2 separate regions of the Homo sapiens genome follow, and region 1 is linked to region 2. A link means that fine-mapping ties the variant in region 2 to the expression of a gene that starts in the linked region. Tissue or cell type: whole blood. Region 2 holds a variant in brackets; the other region holds the start of a gene. All regions are shown on one strand. Distances are from middle to middle.

Region 1 (8,339 bases), 46 kb after region 2:
TTGAGGCAACAGAAATTTGCAGAGGCCAAAGCAAAATGTTTTGTATGCCCAAACATTGTCAGTGGAAGTCAAATCAGTGCACTCTCTTTAGTGTGCCATTTCACAATAATTATCAGCATTTAAACTGAATATCCTCCTTGACACAGCAATCCCCATCTAAGATTAGTGCTTGCGAAAGTACATCCAGATGCATGAATGAGGATATTCACTGAATCACTGTTCAAAAACCAAAATGAAAACAATAAAACAGAGAGAAACTATATGAAATGTCCATCAATAAGGATTGATTAGATAAATAAATTATGATCAATCCATTAAAGGGAGTACTGTATAAACATTATAAACAGGAAGAGAGCACTATATGAGCTGATATGGAAATATCTCCAAGACATATTAAGTGAAAAACACAAGGTACATAAGAGTTTACACAGTACCATCTTGGAAAAAAACTTCAAGTATTCGTGATTACGCCATACATGCTGGTTTTTTTTTTTTTTTTTTTGAGACAGAATCTTGCTCTGTTGCCCAGGCTAGAGTGTGCAGTGGCGCGATCTCAGCTTACTGCAACCTTCACCTCCCAGGTTCAAGCTATTCTTCTGCCTCAGCCTCCTGAGTAGCGGGGACTTACAGGCACGCACCACCACAACCAGCTAAATTTTTGTATTTTTAGTAGAGATGAGGTTTCACCATGTTGGCCAGGTTGGTCTCAAACTCCTGACCTCAAATGATCTGCCTGCCTCAGCCTCCCAAAGTGCTGAGATTACAGGCATGAGCCACTGCCCCCAGCCTTATACATGCGTATTTTATATGCACACAGATACATGTGCTTTTTATATGCCTAGAAAATATCTAGAAAGATACAGAAGGTTATTTTTCACTCTACAACTTACATACTCTAAATTTTTTACCATGATCATATTACTTTTACAATAAACAGTAATTTTACAAACTACTTTAAATAAACTTTTTTCCTATCAAAAAGTATGAGTTTTATCCTAGAGATAAAATGATCCCAAGACAGGAGTTTTAAGTTATGGAATGACTAAATAATAAATATCTATTCTATGCCAAATAGATAAATCTAAGTTAGTTACAGTGGCACTTATAGCTTCAAGATAACTCTCTTGGTAGAGTCAAATGGACCAAGTTCTGACTTCAGCTGTGCTATGCTCTTGACCACAGCAAGTTACATAAACTCTCTAGGCCCCAATTTCCATCTTTATCAAATGGATATAATAAATAGCACCCATTGTCTAGAATGAGTATACAGTACCCAGCAGAGCTTCAACACATAGCAATTAAGTAATGGTAGACAGTAGTATCTGAAGGTGTAGTAGTGATGTGCTACCCCTAAGACCCATTAAGAAGGTTCTAGATCCCTCTCCCGGTCTTCTCCTGATTTAACATTGTCAATTCCTCCAACTTTTTCTCAAAACTGGTAATGATTATGAGTTTCCTATAAACTGGGTAATTAGACCTGTTGCCTTATTATGAGGATTTAAGACGATATTTATCACCACATAACAGTCTACTGTCTTTCTCAACACAGGAGTAAGATAAGCATGGGAATGTCCTGTGATAAGCATCAAAATATAAGTAGTACGTAAGAACACAGGGGAAGAAGGCCGGGCATGGTGACTCACGCCTGTAATCCCAGCACTTTGGGAGGATCGCTTGAACCTGGAGGTGGAGGTCGCAGTGAGCCAAGATCGCACCACAGCACTCAAGCCTGGAACAGAGCATGATCATCTCAAAAAAAAATTTTTTTAAATAGCAACAGAGGGGAAGAAACGTTTTTTGCTAAATTCTTTGGACCTACACTCAACAAAGTTAGGCAATGACCTTATTCTCTGACACCTTACGCTCTCTGCTTTGCCAGAGCAAATTTTGTGGTTTATGAGTATTCCAAGGAATAAAGTTTGTCAGATGGGCCAGCTGGGCTCATCAGCCAGACAATGCAGCTGAAGATCAACAGTTAGTTTCTGAAAAAGACTTTAGCACTCACTACATAGAGTAACGGCTCCAATGGGACTAGATTAAAAGTAAAGACAAACTCTCCCTTTCATCCAGCCCTATGACACTTTTCAAGACAGACTCAGAGAAGCCATACACTAGCTTTTTTGGCCAAAATAACCAAGGTTGACCCTCTCTGTAGACCCCAGGCTGCACAGAGAATAATCTTGCTAAGTGTGTGAGAACCTGTCATCAAGCTGTCTTTTCTTCTTGAACTCTGGTGAAATCCTTACTCTTTCACTATATTCTTTATTTACAAAAGGACAGCTTGTGTTACCACTGGTGTTTCTCCTTATTGAAAGTACCCAGAACTACTCCAGCCCATCCTCTGTGTGCAACTATTTACCCCTGACAGCATGCTCTGGGAGGTTATGCAATACATAAGTCATGGCCACTTCCACTGTCTTTCACAGTATCTGTGGTCAGCAGAGGGCCAGGTTTTCTTTGAGACCCTGTTGCCCAGGCTGGAGTGGAGTGGCGCGATCTCAGTTCATTGCAGCCTTCAACTCCCAGGCTCAGGTGATCCTCCCACCTCAGCTTCCCAAGTAGCTGGGACGACAAGTGTGTGCCACATGTCCAGCTAATTTTTGTATTTTTTTGTAGAGATGAGGTTTCGCCATGTTGCCCAGGTTGGTCTCGAACTCCTGGATTCAAGCGATCCACCTGCCTTGGCCTCCCAAAGTGCTAGGAATACAGGTGTGAGCCACAACGCCCAGCCTTAGGTTTTCTTAAGGAACCAACCTAATCATAAAAAAAGGAGCAGGAGTGTTTGTGTGGAAGCCAGCCATGGATTTCAGCACTGAGGGAAGGAAGGGCCCAGACTTCTGGATTGTGGCCCCAGCCATGCCAGAAATGTGAGCATGACAGCTCCCTCCTCAAGAGCCCAGTTTTCTCATCAGATGAATAAAAGGACAGGGACTAGATCATCTGAGATTCCTGCAGGCAGTAAGCACCTGACTCCTGCTGAAGACATTCTCTCTAGCAAATCCAAAAGGAAAAGTCCTAAACAACAACCTCAAATTCACAATGACCCAAACCAGGAGTTCCTGTTTCCCTTGTTTGGGCGGTGAAAAGATAAGCCACAGAAATGACCACGCAAAGTCTCACATTCTGTACCAGGATTCTGAGCCATGGACATACACAAAATAAGAGGCATTTCCTCTCCCAGCTGCAACCCTTCCCTACCACAAGAACTAAAATCACACAGGATTCTGCAATGGGGAAGTTTCTGCTCACCCTTATCTAGGGACCTAGGCAAATCCAAAACCCGCACATTATCACTCCCAAACTTTCCTTTCATCCCTCAGACTTCAGAACTGGAGAAAGCACAGTCCTGGGGGAGTTGAATTAGCGGCTTGCACAAGACAGGACACTAAAGGCAAGAAAAAAAAACAAGTAGTAATTAACTTGATTCTGACCAAAAATAACTCGACCATTATAGGCATGTTCTTGGGGGTGGGGCAAGTCTGCCTGGTGGGAGTGACCCCAGCCGCGGGGACCTGCGGGGGGCGTGCTCTTCCCAGCACTCCGAGAGCAGGTATTCAGGGCAAAAAAGCACAATGCGACCCAAGTGCGTCACGCCACAGAGATCCCAGGGGAGGAAGAGACTTGTCCCGGCAGGTTCACCGCCCCCAGCTGACCCAAACAAGGAGAATGGGCTGACACAGACCCCTGGTTCCTGGACGCGTGGGGGCCAAACAAGACAATAGGACCATCACAAAACAAATGACAGCAGGAGGAAGATGAGCCCAGCTGTCGGGAATGGGGACAGGAGAGGAGGACAGATGGAGAACTGAAAGGAGCGCGCCGAGGAGGGGGTGTGGACTGACTCAGCCCCTGGAGAGAATGCCCCCAGATGCGCGCAGAGACCCACGTCCAGCTTCCAGACGCTGCGGCGCGGGAACAGCCCCCTCCCGCTGGCCCGCCTGCCTTCCCCGCTCCCGCGCCCCGCACCGTGTTGTAGAACTCGGCGATAGCAGGCACGATGGTGTAGTTGTCCTCGCACCAGTCCACCTCCGAGCTACCAGCCTGCAGCTGGTCCCACCAGTGCGGGGCGCCCATGGCCACTCCGGGGCATTGGAGCAGCTGCTCGCGCAGCTGAGAAGAGCCCAGAGCTGCTGCGGAGGCAAAACGCGGCGACAGCCAGCGGCGAAAGCGGCTTTATGAAGCACCGGGTAACCGCCGGATGTGCGCCTCCCAACTGGCCTCCCGCGCTCCGCCCCGCCTCGCCTCGCCTGCGGGAGGTTACTCGTTCGCAGACCCTCCCCGGCCCCTCCCCCTGGAAGCCACGCCCACCGTGGGGCGGGACCCGCGTGGAGGAGGGGTCCAGGGTGGGGCGCCTGGAGGCGGAGACCGGGCTCCAGACTCTTCCAGACTACCCAGCACCCGGCAGGTGGCCAGGGCCTCGATGGTGCTACCCACGCCTGCCCACGCCCATCTCCTGGCTCAGACTCGCAGCCTCCCCCGATTGAAGGAGCGCCAGAACTCTCCCTGGAAAAAAATTTAAAATAAAAAGAAACCCGGGAGGACCTGGACCTCTCTGGACCCAGAGTTTGCAGCGATTTTGCTGCGTCCGGCGTTGGACGCCAGTGCTTACACCAGAGAAGTGCCCTCAGTCCCTCCGAGGCCGGACGCCACTCGCTGCGGTCACTGTGGCAGGAAGACCTTCCCGGCTGCTGGAGCAGGTTGGGCCGCCCAGTCCCCGGGGGAGCACTTCTATTTAGAGTACGTTCCTGCCCTCCCTCCCCTTGGCTCCAGCGTTAAGGCTTAATCTAGCCTTCGATATGGGGACTTAGGCAAAGGGTCAAACGTCAGCCATCCCAAACTGCAGAGGATGTAGTGTGGCAGTTATGACATCTCCAAGATATCGAGGTTCAAGAGGTGATAGATAACATACACATGCCAGGTGCTGTCTGAAGAGTTTCCATGTATCACTCATTTAGTGTGCCCAGCAGAGACCCTGTGAGGGGCTTCTATTAGCAAGTGACAGAGCTGGAAATTCAATTCAGGCAAGATGTCCTCAGATCCAGTCATAACTACCTTCTTTTGCTTCTGTAACTGTTCTGCGGTTTGTAAATGAAAGCCAATCTGGTTCCCAGGATCCCTAGAGGAAAGCCACCCTCTGTGTGTATGTGGTGGCTCCCGTTCTCCTTCCTTGAAAGGTTGTAGGATTCTAGGTCAGGACAGCGGCAGAAGAGGCCCTGGGCAGCAGCCCATTGGTGACTGTCATTAGGACGTCTTGCTCGGACCCGCAGGGTATCCTAAAGGCCAGCAACTCCCCAGGGTCTGCCCTCTCTCTGGGCCTGACTGCCCAGCAGGACCCTGGGTGGTGCTTCAGTGTCCTCTGCACCAAGTGTTTGTCTGCCCACCAGTACCCACACAGCCATGTGCAAGTCCCCAGAGATCTCCATCACTGACAAAAACTGCAAGCCCCGCCGCCTCTCCTAGTCTCTAGAAAATCCAGGTTTGTCCCCCAGGGGCCAAACCACACTCCTCCTTTCATCTTTGTCCCAACCTCTATCCCTTCCTCCTGCTTTACGGGCAATTCCACTGCCCTCCAGAACCCAAGTAGAAGATACACTCTTACCTTCCCCTAGGGTTGATTTACCCAGACCTACAGGATACCCGGAGTGAGCTGGCCACCTAAGAAAGGCGGTTGAGGGCCGGGCGCGGTGGCTCATGCCTGTAATCCCAGCACTTTGGGAGGCCGAGGCAGGCGGATCACGAGGTCAGGAGATGGAGACCATCCTGGCTAACATGGTGAAACCCCGTCTCTACTTAAAAAAAGAATACAAAAAATTACCCGGGCGTCGTGGCGGGCGCCTGTAGTCCCAGCTACGCAGGAGGCTGAGGCAGGAGAATTGCGTGAACCCGGGAAGCGGAGCTTGCAGTGAGCCGAGATCGCGCCACTGCACTCCAGCCTGGGTGACAGAGCGAGATTCCATCTCAAAAACGAAGGGCGGTTGGGGTGGATGTTTCCCACAGCCACAGAAGAAAGATACATCAGTTAATTTCTGTGTCTCAAAATGCTACACCAACTGTTCAGCAATAGAATTTTCCCTGTAGTCAATATTTTACTTCTTCCAACAACAGTTTACTTGGAAATATATCCATATTCATCAAAATATAATGGTATTTTTAAAAAACCATTATTTTATATGCCAGAGATTCTCAAAGTGTGGTTCCTCCCTTTCTTTTCATTTTCATTCTCTTACCAGTGTACATTGGAACTTCCCAGAGGATACATGATGTGTGATGTCATTATCTCTCCGACAGCTAATGGAATATGTGCTTGTGATTCTTTGGTATTAAAAGTCTGTTTAAATTTCTAATGCGGTAACTATTGATGTTACCATATAAACCACAAGTTCTCTGGTGTTCTCAATATTTTTTAAGAGTGTAAAGGGGTCCTCAGACTAAAAAGATTGAAAGTTGCTGTTAAAAAGATGTTCCTGGCCGGATGCAGTGGCTCATGCCTGTAATCCCAGCACTTTGGGAGGCCAAAGCAGGCAGCTCTTCTGAGGTCTGGAGTTCGGGACCAGCCTGGTGAACTTGGCAAAACCCCGTCTCTATTAAAATACAAAAATTAGCAGGGCATGATGGTGGGCACCTCCAGCTATGCGGGAGGCTGAGGCAGAAGAATCGCTTGAACCCAGGGGGCAGAGGTTGCAGTGAGCCAAGATCGCGCCGCTGCACTCCAGCTTGGGCAACAGAGCGAGACTCCATCTCAAAAAAAAAAAAAAAAAAAAGAAATATTTCCAATTAAACTATTTGTAATACTTTTTTATCATTTAGAATTTTTAGTGAACAAGCACAGACTTAGACTTACATTGTTATCATACATCTCTTGTGCATACCTAAGAAGGAAGGTATAAGCAAAAATAAATTCATTAAAGAATTCCTGTAATTTCTTTACATTCAGAATCTCTGTTCTTCTGAGTCATTTTTCAGCTTATAGTCATTGATGTCTGTGTCATTCATATAGAAATGTCCTCTGTGTCCTTAATTACTATGTGCTAATAATGCAGCATTTCTTAAAACTATTCCACTACTGTTTTCTTGCAAACTACTGACACCTGTTTTACAAATTTTGATGCTGGGACTCTCCTGATCTTACCTGAAGGTGTCAGTGGAAGGTTTCCAGACAACAGGCAGCATGTTTCTTTTCCAGATGGTCCTTATATAATCTGTTGAGAGAAACATGGAGATTACAGTTGCCAAGTCATCCCACCAGGAATAACCACCAAGTCTGTACATATGCAGGCAGTGACACCACATCACAACCATGACCTAGCCAACCATAATCATAAAATGCCATTCTTGGTAAAATGCATCAGGATTTCAGAGATTTAACAACGCAAAACAATGTGAGTTTTAGCACCAGTGAAATATTAAATTTGCTGAATGTAATTCATCCTTCTTTCCAAGTCTTGCTAAGGGAATGATGGGAGTTTTTCATCCTCCACAGTAACTCTTATTGTCAGTGACAATTGTAGTTCAAAATCAGTCAGCCACATTGGTTCCTTCTAATTACAACTGCACAGAAACCGTACTTGAGTCACACTGTCTCTAAAATTTTGTTTTCATAGCTCTCCCCATTGTTAACATTGTTAACTTTTTTTTTTTTTTTTGAGACAGGGTAACCCTCTGTTACCCTGGTTGGTGTGCAATGGTGCAATTTCAGCTCACTGCAACCTTGACCCCCCCACCCCAGACTCAAGCGACCCTCCCACCTCAGCCTCATGAGTAGCTAGGACCACAAGGGTGCACCACAATGCCCAGCTAAATGTTGTATGTTTTGTAGAGACAAGGTTTCATCATGTTGCCCAGGCTGGTCTCAAACTCCCAGGTTCAAGTGATCCCTTGAGCCTCCCAAAGTGCTAGGATTATAGGAGTGAGCCATTGCATCCAGCCAACATTTTTAAAATAAATACAACATTGGTAATTTAACAAGAGGGCCTATCAGGAGGTTATAAATTTTAAAATTGATTTATATTAATTGCATGATGCCTTAGAAACTACTGCTAGTGGTTGAATACAAAATTCTGATGTCTACTCTAAACTAAGTTTGTTGAGGGAAGGATGCAGTGACAGCAAGGAACAGAACTACTGAGTTCCAACTATTTGGCTTACGATGCTTTTGGCCTACATGACTCAGTGATACAGATCCACAAGGGAGCAAGTTTGAAGGAACAGCCCTTGCAAGGAATTCAGAATGACAGCACCTTCTATTTTTACATAGTGTATAACAATGTTTATTTGGTATAAGTAAATATCTGATAGTAAATATCCAGTTCAACTGGTTCCACAAGTGGAAATTATCAAGT
Region 2 (8,339 bases):
TGGTCAAAATACATTTCCAGTCGTACCCAAAACAGGAATAATGGTAATGCCAGCCTCGCAAAATAGCTGAGAGGAGTAAATGAGACCATTTATGTGAAAGATAACTTATGTGATGGGCTGTCAAATAAGGTTTGCTTGTAAGAAAATTCCTAGGGAGTCTACCAATAATATTCCTAGGGAGTCGACCAATTATTTCACTGGACTGAAATTCCGTATTATATGTGGCTCATGGTTTATCAGTTAAAGCTTAGAATTCTCGCTCCTCCCTGGTGAAAACTCACCACTCTCTCCTTCCTGCCTCCCTAGCACTGTTGATTCCTCTCCACTACGGGGATTTGGCAGAGTCAGTGGCCTTCTCCCCTCCCCAGATCTGAGCTGCTCCATCCGTCCCCATAACCCTCTGCAGGCAGCATAATAGGTAATACCACACAGACACTTGCTGAGTGTTGATTTAAATTAGATTCATCTTTAAAAAGATCTGAGTTATAATGACATTTGACTTGTGTAAATTGAGCTATTAATCCCAAAAGTTAAATTTCACTCCAGTGGATTAAAAACTTCCTCCAGACTGGTCGGTGGCTAGTGCCTTTTGGCCCAGCTACTAAGGAGGCTGAGGCAGGAGGATCGCTTGAGGCCAGGAGGTCAATGCTGTAGTGTGCCATTATGGAGCCTGTAAATAGCCCCTACCTTCCAGCCTGGGCAACACAGCAAGACCCCATATCTAATAAACAAACAAAAACACAAAACTTCCTTTAAATCACATCTACCTTAAATTGGTTTTAAATACAGCCCCTTTGTAACCTCAGGTTCCACATCCACCTATTCAACATGGATCGAAAATATTCAGGGAAAAAGAAACAGTAAAAAATCATAACACAACAATAAATAATAATACAAATAAAAAGCAACGCAGTTTAACAACTGTTTACACAGCATATACATTGTATTAGGTATTATAAGTAATCCAGAGATGATTTAAAGCACACAAGACGTGCATAGGTAATATGTAAATACAATGCTATTTTATGTATGAGACTGGAGCCTCTGGGATTTTGGTATGGGGGTTGGGGGGTCCTGGAACCACGAATACCGAGAGCCAACAACAGTATTTGCTTTCACATTGGGCAACCTCTAAAACACCCGGGGTGGGGGGTGAAAACTGAATTTCTAAGGGAAGAGAGGAGAGGAAAAGGAAGGGAGAGAGATGCTTGGAAAAATGCAGGGAAACATACCTGGGCCCAGAAAGAGATTACATAACTTGGCGTTTTGAGACAATTGGTGATCTCTGGGATGATTAGGAACTGGGAAGGGCTTCGCTTGCGCCACATAGCAATGCCTCAAAAACCCACAAGATGGCAGTATTACTCCAGGAGCGTCTCCGTCCCTCCCACCCAGTAGCTAATGGCTTTCTTTGTTCACAGGAAACCCTCTCTCCCAAATATCATCAGCGCCACTGTATGTTTTCCATTACTTCATGCTCCTGGCCTTACCTTCAGCCAGTTTCCTATCACTAGCCCGAATATAAAAATAAACTACTGTTATTTGTTACATCTTAAAAATAGCACTTTGGTCTCTGCTCTCAATTGCCAAAGCAGCTGAATCAAATGTTTTGTTTTAATGAGAAGCATAAAATAAATAAAAACCCAGGTGAGGGTGATCTCTTCCTTTTTGTGAGTTAACACCCAAAGAGAAGACTTCCCAGGTAAACTAGGTGTCGCCAGGCTGGAGACAGTTAGAGACAGAAGTGCCACTTGAGACAAGATAAGTTCTGGGAGAGAGGGGCTGCCAGCCCTCTTAAAACGGGGCCGGAAAGGAGGCTGAGAACCGGCTCTGGAGACAGTGGAGAACAAAATCTCAAATACCGTATCTTTTAAGTTCTTATTATGAAAAAATCCAACTATACAAAAGTAGACAGAACGGTATGACAAACCCAAACACCATCTTAAGAACTGTGAAACTGTAAACCAGGAAAGAGGCTGCAAGGAAAAAATCTAAGTTCCCAGTTTGTTGAGGAGCCCTAAGATGTCACTTGCCAGAACCCTGGGTCTGCCCACTCCAGCCCTTTGTAGTATAGTTCTTTAACACAGTCTTTCAATGTAATGTCTTTTAATGAAAAGTCCTTTAAAGAAAAGAGTGGGAGAGGCTAGCCCCTGAGCTCTGGTCTTCAAAGGGCAATCTGGAAAAGGGAGCAGGTGTGGCTGCATCAACTCCCAGCCAGACTCAGAAAAAGAGGTCACCCAAGAGGAGAAACAAATAATCCAGACTGTCGGGGAGAGAGGCACACACACCCGTGCCAGTGCCCCAAAAGCAGAGCTCTCAACTTCCTCAGCCACTGTCCCTGACCACAGCCTCAAAAAAGTTCAGTCCCGAAGACTGAGTAACCAATTTCAGCACCAAAAGGATTTGAGTGCTTGCTTAGTCTCCTGTTGGGCAGAGGCTGTTTACCTGGATGGGCTACTAGAGATGTCTGAACCCCCAGAAAATTATATACTGATTGAATGTCCCTTATCCAAAGTGCCTGGAACCAGAAATGCTTGGATTTCAGATATCAGACTTTGGAATATTTGCATTATACAGCATCCCTATTCCAAAAATCAGAAGTCTAAAATGCTCCAAGGAATATTCCCTTTGATTTTTATATAGGTGCTCAAAAAGTTTCAGGTTTTGGAGAATTTCTGATTTTTTATTTTTGGATTAGAGATACTCAACCTCTACATGGACGTTTTCCTACAGCTTTTATATTGCCAAACAACTATGGGGCCACTCCTTGTCCCCTCACCTCTGCCAGAAAAAAAAAAAAAAGTCTAAAAACCCACTGTAATGATACAGATAATGCTTATCCAGTCTTTCTTCTCTTACGATTTTTCTTTTTTTTTTTTCTTTTTGATAAATGGTCTCACTGTTTGGCCCAGGCTGGAGCACAGTGGCACGATCTCTGCTCACTGCAACCTCTGCCTCCTAGGCTCAAGCAATCCTCCCACCTCAGCCTCCTGCGTAGCTGGGACTACAGGTGTGTATCACCACACCTGGCTAATTTTTGTAATTTTGGTAGAGACAGGGTTTTACCATGTTGCCCAGGCTGGTTTTGAACTCCTGAGCTCAAGCGATACACCCACTTCAGCATCCCAAAGTGCCAGGATTACAGGCATGAGCCACTGTGCCCAGACTATTCTTCTAAATCTGATGATCTGTGAGTCCTTTCAGTTTAAAAAACTGCCACAGAAAATTAAAAGAAGTAGGTAAAAATTTTCCTGCTAAATTTATGATTTTAAAATGTCACGATCTTCCTTCTAGTGATTTGATGAAATCCAGCATAAATGAACTGTATTCTATATTTGAGATTTTTGGGTTTTTTTTTTTTTTTTGAGACAGAGTCTCGCTCTGTCACCCAGGCTGGAGGGCATTGGTGCAACCTTGACTCACTGCAACCATCGCCTCCCAGGTGAAAGTGATTCTCCTGCCTCAGCCTCCTGACTAGCTGGGACTGCAGGTGCGAGTTACCATGCCCAGCTGATTTTTGTATTTTTTTTAGTAGAGACGGGGTTTCGCCATGTTGGCCAGGTTGGTCTCGAACTCCTGACCTCAGGTGATCCACCCACCTTCCCCTCCCAAAGTGCTGGGATTACAGGCACGAGCCACCGCACCAGGCCTATATTTGAGATTTATATCTATATGACATGACTATAGAAGTTTTAGTAAAAATAAACTGTTCTTAGGTATTTTATGCTGGAAATATTTTCATGTGTTAATTTCACAGCTCTGAGAAGAAACCAACAAGGAACAACAATTACTTTACGCATTT[T/C]TAATAACAATGGTACCCAATTCATTAACAAATGAATTTAGGCAATGTGCTTTGCTCTACAATCCATCAGATACATTTTCACTGCAGATAGTTCAGAAATCATTTTGGAAATAGACACAAACATGTACATATTCATTTGCTGAAAATGCCACTTACAGCTTTAATATCAAATATAGTTATCATAGTTCACAGAAAAAGTATAAAGTGCAAAAGCTCCACTTCAAAAGGCCTTAAGTCACTCCCAAAGCAATGAGGATTAAATTTTACCACAGCCAGTGGGCATGCCACCCTTATGTAGGACACCTACATAAGGTATAAAACAAGGTATATATCTGAAAACACTATATTGCTCTGATTACATATTGTGGTTATAAAATAGTTTTAAATCTGGTTTAACATACAGAGAAAGATACAATTCAAACAATTAGTCCTATAAAGTAGGGGTTATTTATTTTTTTAAGTTTGCAGGGGAATTATGTCTATAAAATCCATTGAGAATCCCAATCTGGCCCAAGACTTCTCTTTGGCCAGCTGGAATAATAGCACCTAGGCAAAGCCTTGGCTATGAAAGCTTTCAGATTAATTTCAGTGTAAAAGGAGCTAGGAGAGGGGCCCTGACTGGGTGAGCTTCAGCATCCACCTGGTCCCTCAGAGATGGTTCCATGTCTGCCCCAAGGGATAAAGAGCCAGGAAGGCTCAAATCCCAGTCCTGAGGGCTCATGGAAGCATGATGAACTGGCGAGAGAAGTTTTACACACCTGACAGATCCAGTAAGTGGAATAGGTGGTCGTATTTTTACAAAGCCTTGTGTTTGATGACCATCAAGCTTTGTCCCTCAACAGAACATCTTTGATCTATAATTAATGTTTTAGGCACTCTTCACTGGACAGGCATAGAGTTCCCCAAAAATGCAGCCCATCCCCAAATGGATTCAGAGATCTCATCTCCACACACCTTAAATGTGTTCATGGAAGGACTTGATTTATAATGATGTAATCATAAAGGGAAGAAAATATTACTTTTTCTAATAATCAACAACTAAACACTGTAAAACATGAATCGCTGACTGAAATGATCACTCGGAAACATGAATGGTTTTTTATAGCCTAACTCCAGTTTCTGCTGGGTATTGATCTTGGGCAAATTCTGACCAGAACAAAATCTGATTAGCCATGCCAAGTAACCACAACCATGACCTAACTCCTAAGTGTCAGCCCTACTGAAGGGAGGGAGATTCTTGACTGCCCATCAATTAATGAAATAAACTATTCATTTTTTACAATCTGAACATATCAAAATCTGTAAAGTCACATATTTAACAGCTATTTATGATGACTCACCAAGCCAAGTGCAGAGGCACATCAAAAAGTACAATTACATTCATTACTTTTTGGAGCCCATTCATGTTAGGCTTGATTAAAAAGGTAGACTCAGTAGTCAGTCTCAGAATCCAGTGATCAGCATTCAAGCATATAGCTAACTCTAGTGTATTCCAAACCTACACTTCATGAAAAAATATACAACTGGCATTTACATGCCATTCAAGCTACAGGATAAATGTCAACTCTGAAAGACATCATTTATTTACAACTATATTGGGGGAAAAAAGAGGAGACCAAACCAAAATATTAACAAGGATTATACCTGGGCAATAGAAATATGGGTTACTTTTTTTTTTCTTTGACTTCTCTGTAGTTTCCCAATTTTCTTTAAAGAGTTTGTAGTGCTTTTACATATATGAGCGATGCCATAAACCCAACTTAAAATAAGATGGGTATATTTCTACTCTCTTGGTTTACATCCCATGCTGGCAAGCTAGAGTGATTTCTGTTCAAAAGTGAAGTTATGTTTTGTCCTCCTCAAATATACTCCATTCCACATTTCTTTCTCAGCTCATCTCTTTAAAACCAGTTTCTAGAAGCACATTCTGCTTCTCACATTAAAAAAAAAAAAAAAAAAAAAAAAAAAAAAGCCGGGCTTAAAATATATACCAAACCCCCTACCTTGGAGCATTTATACCATAAAGTAGATGAGACCAGAATCCATGCCTGATAAGGTCAATCTAAAATAAGAATGAGCTGATATTTGCCTTTAAAAAATTCTAGACTTGAAACCCAAAGGACTTAACAGCAGTTCTGTTCCATCAACCTCCTAGGTCTCAAAGAGATACATTAGAAATTCTACGAATATTTAATTCAAAGATCATTTTAAAAATATTTTTTAGGCCAGGCGTGACGGCTCATGCCTATTCCCAGCACTTTGGGAGGCCGAGGCGGGCGAATCTCTTGAGCCCAGAAGTTTGAGACCAGCCTGGGCAAAATGGTGAAACCCCATCTCTATGAAAAAATACAAAAATTAGCTGGGAGTGGAGGCACGCACCAGTACTCCCAGCTCCTGGGGAGGCTGAGGTGAGAGGATCACTTGAGCCTGGGAGACAGAGGCTACAGTGAGTCATGACTGCACCACTGCACTCCAGCCTGGGTAATAGAGCAAGACCCTGACTCAAAAACAAAACACTCTCTCTATATATATATAAAACTATAATAAACCAACATATACATTCATTCAACACCTAATTTTTCTACCTTGGAAATTACCAATTTGTTAATTTGCATTTTCACCACCTCATATATTATTAAGTAAATGCCATAAATTTAACCTTAAATAAATTTAATAACATACAATTTACTTCACACACTGGGGTTCCACAAAGATTTCTTACTACAAACAGCGTTCTGCTTCTCAACAACCTATATAATTTGATAACCACAGATGTAGCATAAAGTCATTCATTTTTAAACTCTAAATTCAGTTGCTTATTGGGGTTTTCACCTTGGATCTGGTACAAATTCTAACTAGAGTAAGAGTTCCTGGATGTGTCAAAAATCGTCACCTTCCCAACTCTTACATATGTAGGACAGTGACATGACTCCTGCCCACAGAAGAACACACCTGTCCTGCCCTCTCCCAACAATGGAATGTTACAAAGCAGGACACGCCTGAGTTAAAATGAGTATCCCTGAGGTTGATAATTCCCACCATGCACCTTGAAGATGGTTCTTGAATCTTTCATTCAGCCCGATGAAGAGAAGATTCATTGTAGCCAGTGTCACATTAGGTGAGAAAAATTCAGAAGGCAACAGATTTGCGCTGCTGCACCAGCGACCCAAACCAGCCCGTGAGTGCATAGCTACTGCCAGCACTTGAGAAAGGTGAGCCGTTGGATACTCTGGGAAACCGAGAAAGCACCTTCTACTGCAAGCGTGAAGAACATGATGCCCACAGAAAACACAACAGAAACAAGAAGTGAGACTCTTGAAGGTAATTTCCAGAATAGTACAGCATACTGGAGGCTTCAAATGAGAAAACGTTTCCAAAAACTTCATGTTTGCTCCAAATTTTGAACCAGAACCCCCACCACAATTGTGAGGAGCCCTTTGGTAAACTTACAGAGGTCAAGTCTTAAAGATGGTGGGTCTGTGGGAATGTTCATGCCATAATTCTTCTTCTCTGTAGATTTGAGGCTGCTGAGCTGGGGTGGGAGGGGGAAGAGGAAGTGATGTCAGTATTTAAAAATTGTGCTCAGTATTTAAAAATTGTGCTCATCTTCAAGAAGGGCCTAAAGTGGAGTGTAGGTTTTGGCAGAGAGGGTTTTACTCATTAGCTTCACGTTTATCTGAAGTCTCTCCATCTCTCCACAGAGGTAGTAGTAAAAGGATTCACAGATGCATGTAAAACCTGGGTTAGTTGAGAAATGCAAGTGAAAAACTAGCCTTTTTAGCCACAAGTCCTGTGTGTGTTTCATCTGTTTGGTTTTGTTTAAGGACAATTACCCCAAAGGAAAATCTCTGGCATCTTCCATCACAGAGTCAGAGGGTCTTGTCTCTCAGAGGGTCTGTCTGTCATCAGTAGAGTCCACTCCAAGGGCGCCTGGGAATGGTGGGGTCTGGAGCAGGCCAGCTTTCTCCAGGAAGAGATGCATTGTACAGGGCTGGATCCCCCAAGGGACTGCTCTGCCATGGCCATTAAGGACGCAGCCCAACAAGTCACTGCATCTGGAAGTGATGCTGAGAAAGATGCATCTAGTGTCCCTAAGCCCTCCATTTTCCATCTTTGGGAAAGGAATAGACACTTTTCCCCTTGTACAGTGGAATCCAGGTGGTCCACAGACACATTAGGGAGGAGGAGGGGACCTTTTTAAAAATTACACAAAATCCAGAAATCCTAAAGAAAAGATTAACAGATGTGACAACATGAAAGTTTAAAACCAGTATGGCACAAAAATATTAACATACTGAAAGACAAATGGGAAACTGCAGGGGGGCAGGGAATATTTGTACCATATGACAAAGTTTAAATCCCTACATACAAAGAACACTAAAGAAATTAAGAGCCCCAGCAAATAGATTTTTGAAAAGATAGCCCACACCCCAACTATTCGAACTCCCTTGGCTGTCTTCCTAGCAAAGGAAGCCCACTGCATGAGGGGCGATAAGCAGAGAAGCCAGCCACCATCTTGCCATCACGTGATCTTGAC

What was found.
Region 1: it holds the start of ACER2, and the variant in region 2 is fine-mapped to the expression of ACER2 in whole blood (TOPMed, PIP above 0.99).

What each region holds. Positions count from the first base shown.
Region 1 is chr9:19,404,820-19,413,158 of GRCh38, reverse strand. It overlaps ACER2 (alkaline ceramidase 2), which reads right to left and starts at 4,150. Exons shown (of 6, transcript NM_001010887.3): 1 at 3,967-4,150. The coding sequence starts at 4,074. RefSeq lists enhancers at 3,905-4,054, 3,467-4,322, 4,323-5,180 and a silencer at 4,155-4,444.
Region 2 is chr9:19,450,622-19,458,960 of GRCh38, reverse strand. It overlaps ACER2 (alkaline ceramidase 2), which reads right to left. Exons shown (of 6, transcript NM_001010887.3): 6 at 6,456-8,339. The coding sequence ends at 8,325. Among named protein-coding and RNA genes, the nearest start is that of MAP1LC3BP1, 8.6 kb to the left of the region's middle. RefSeq lists enhancers at 1,082-1,221, 1,236-1,530, 1,125-1,720, 6,976-7,195. The variant T/C (reference allele first, on the strand shown) is at 3,803.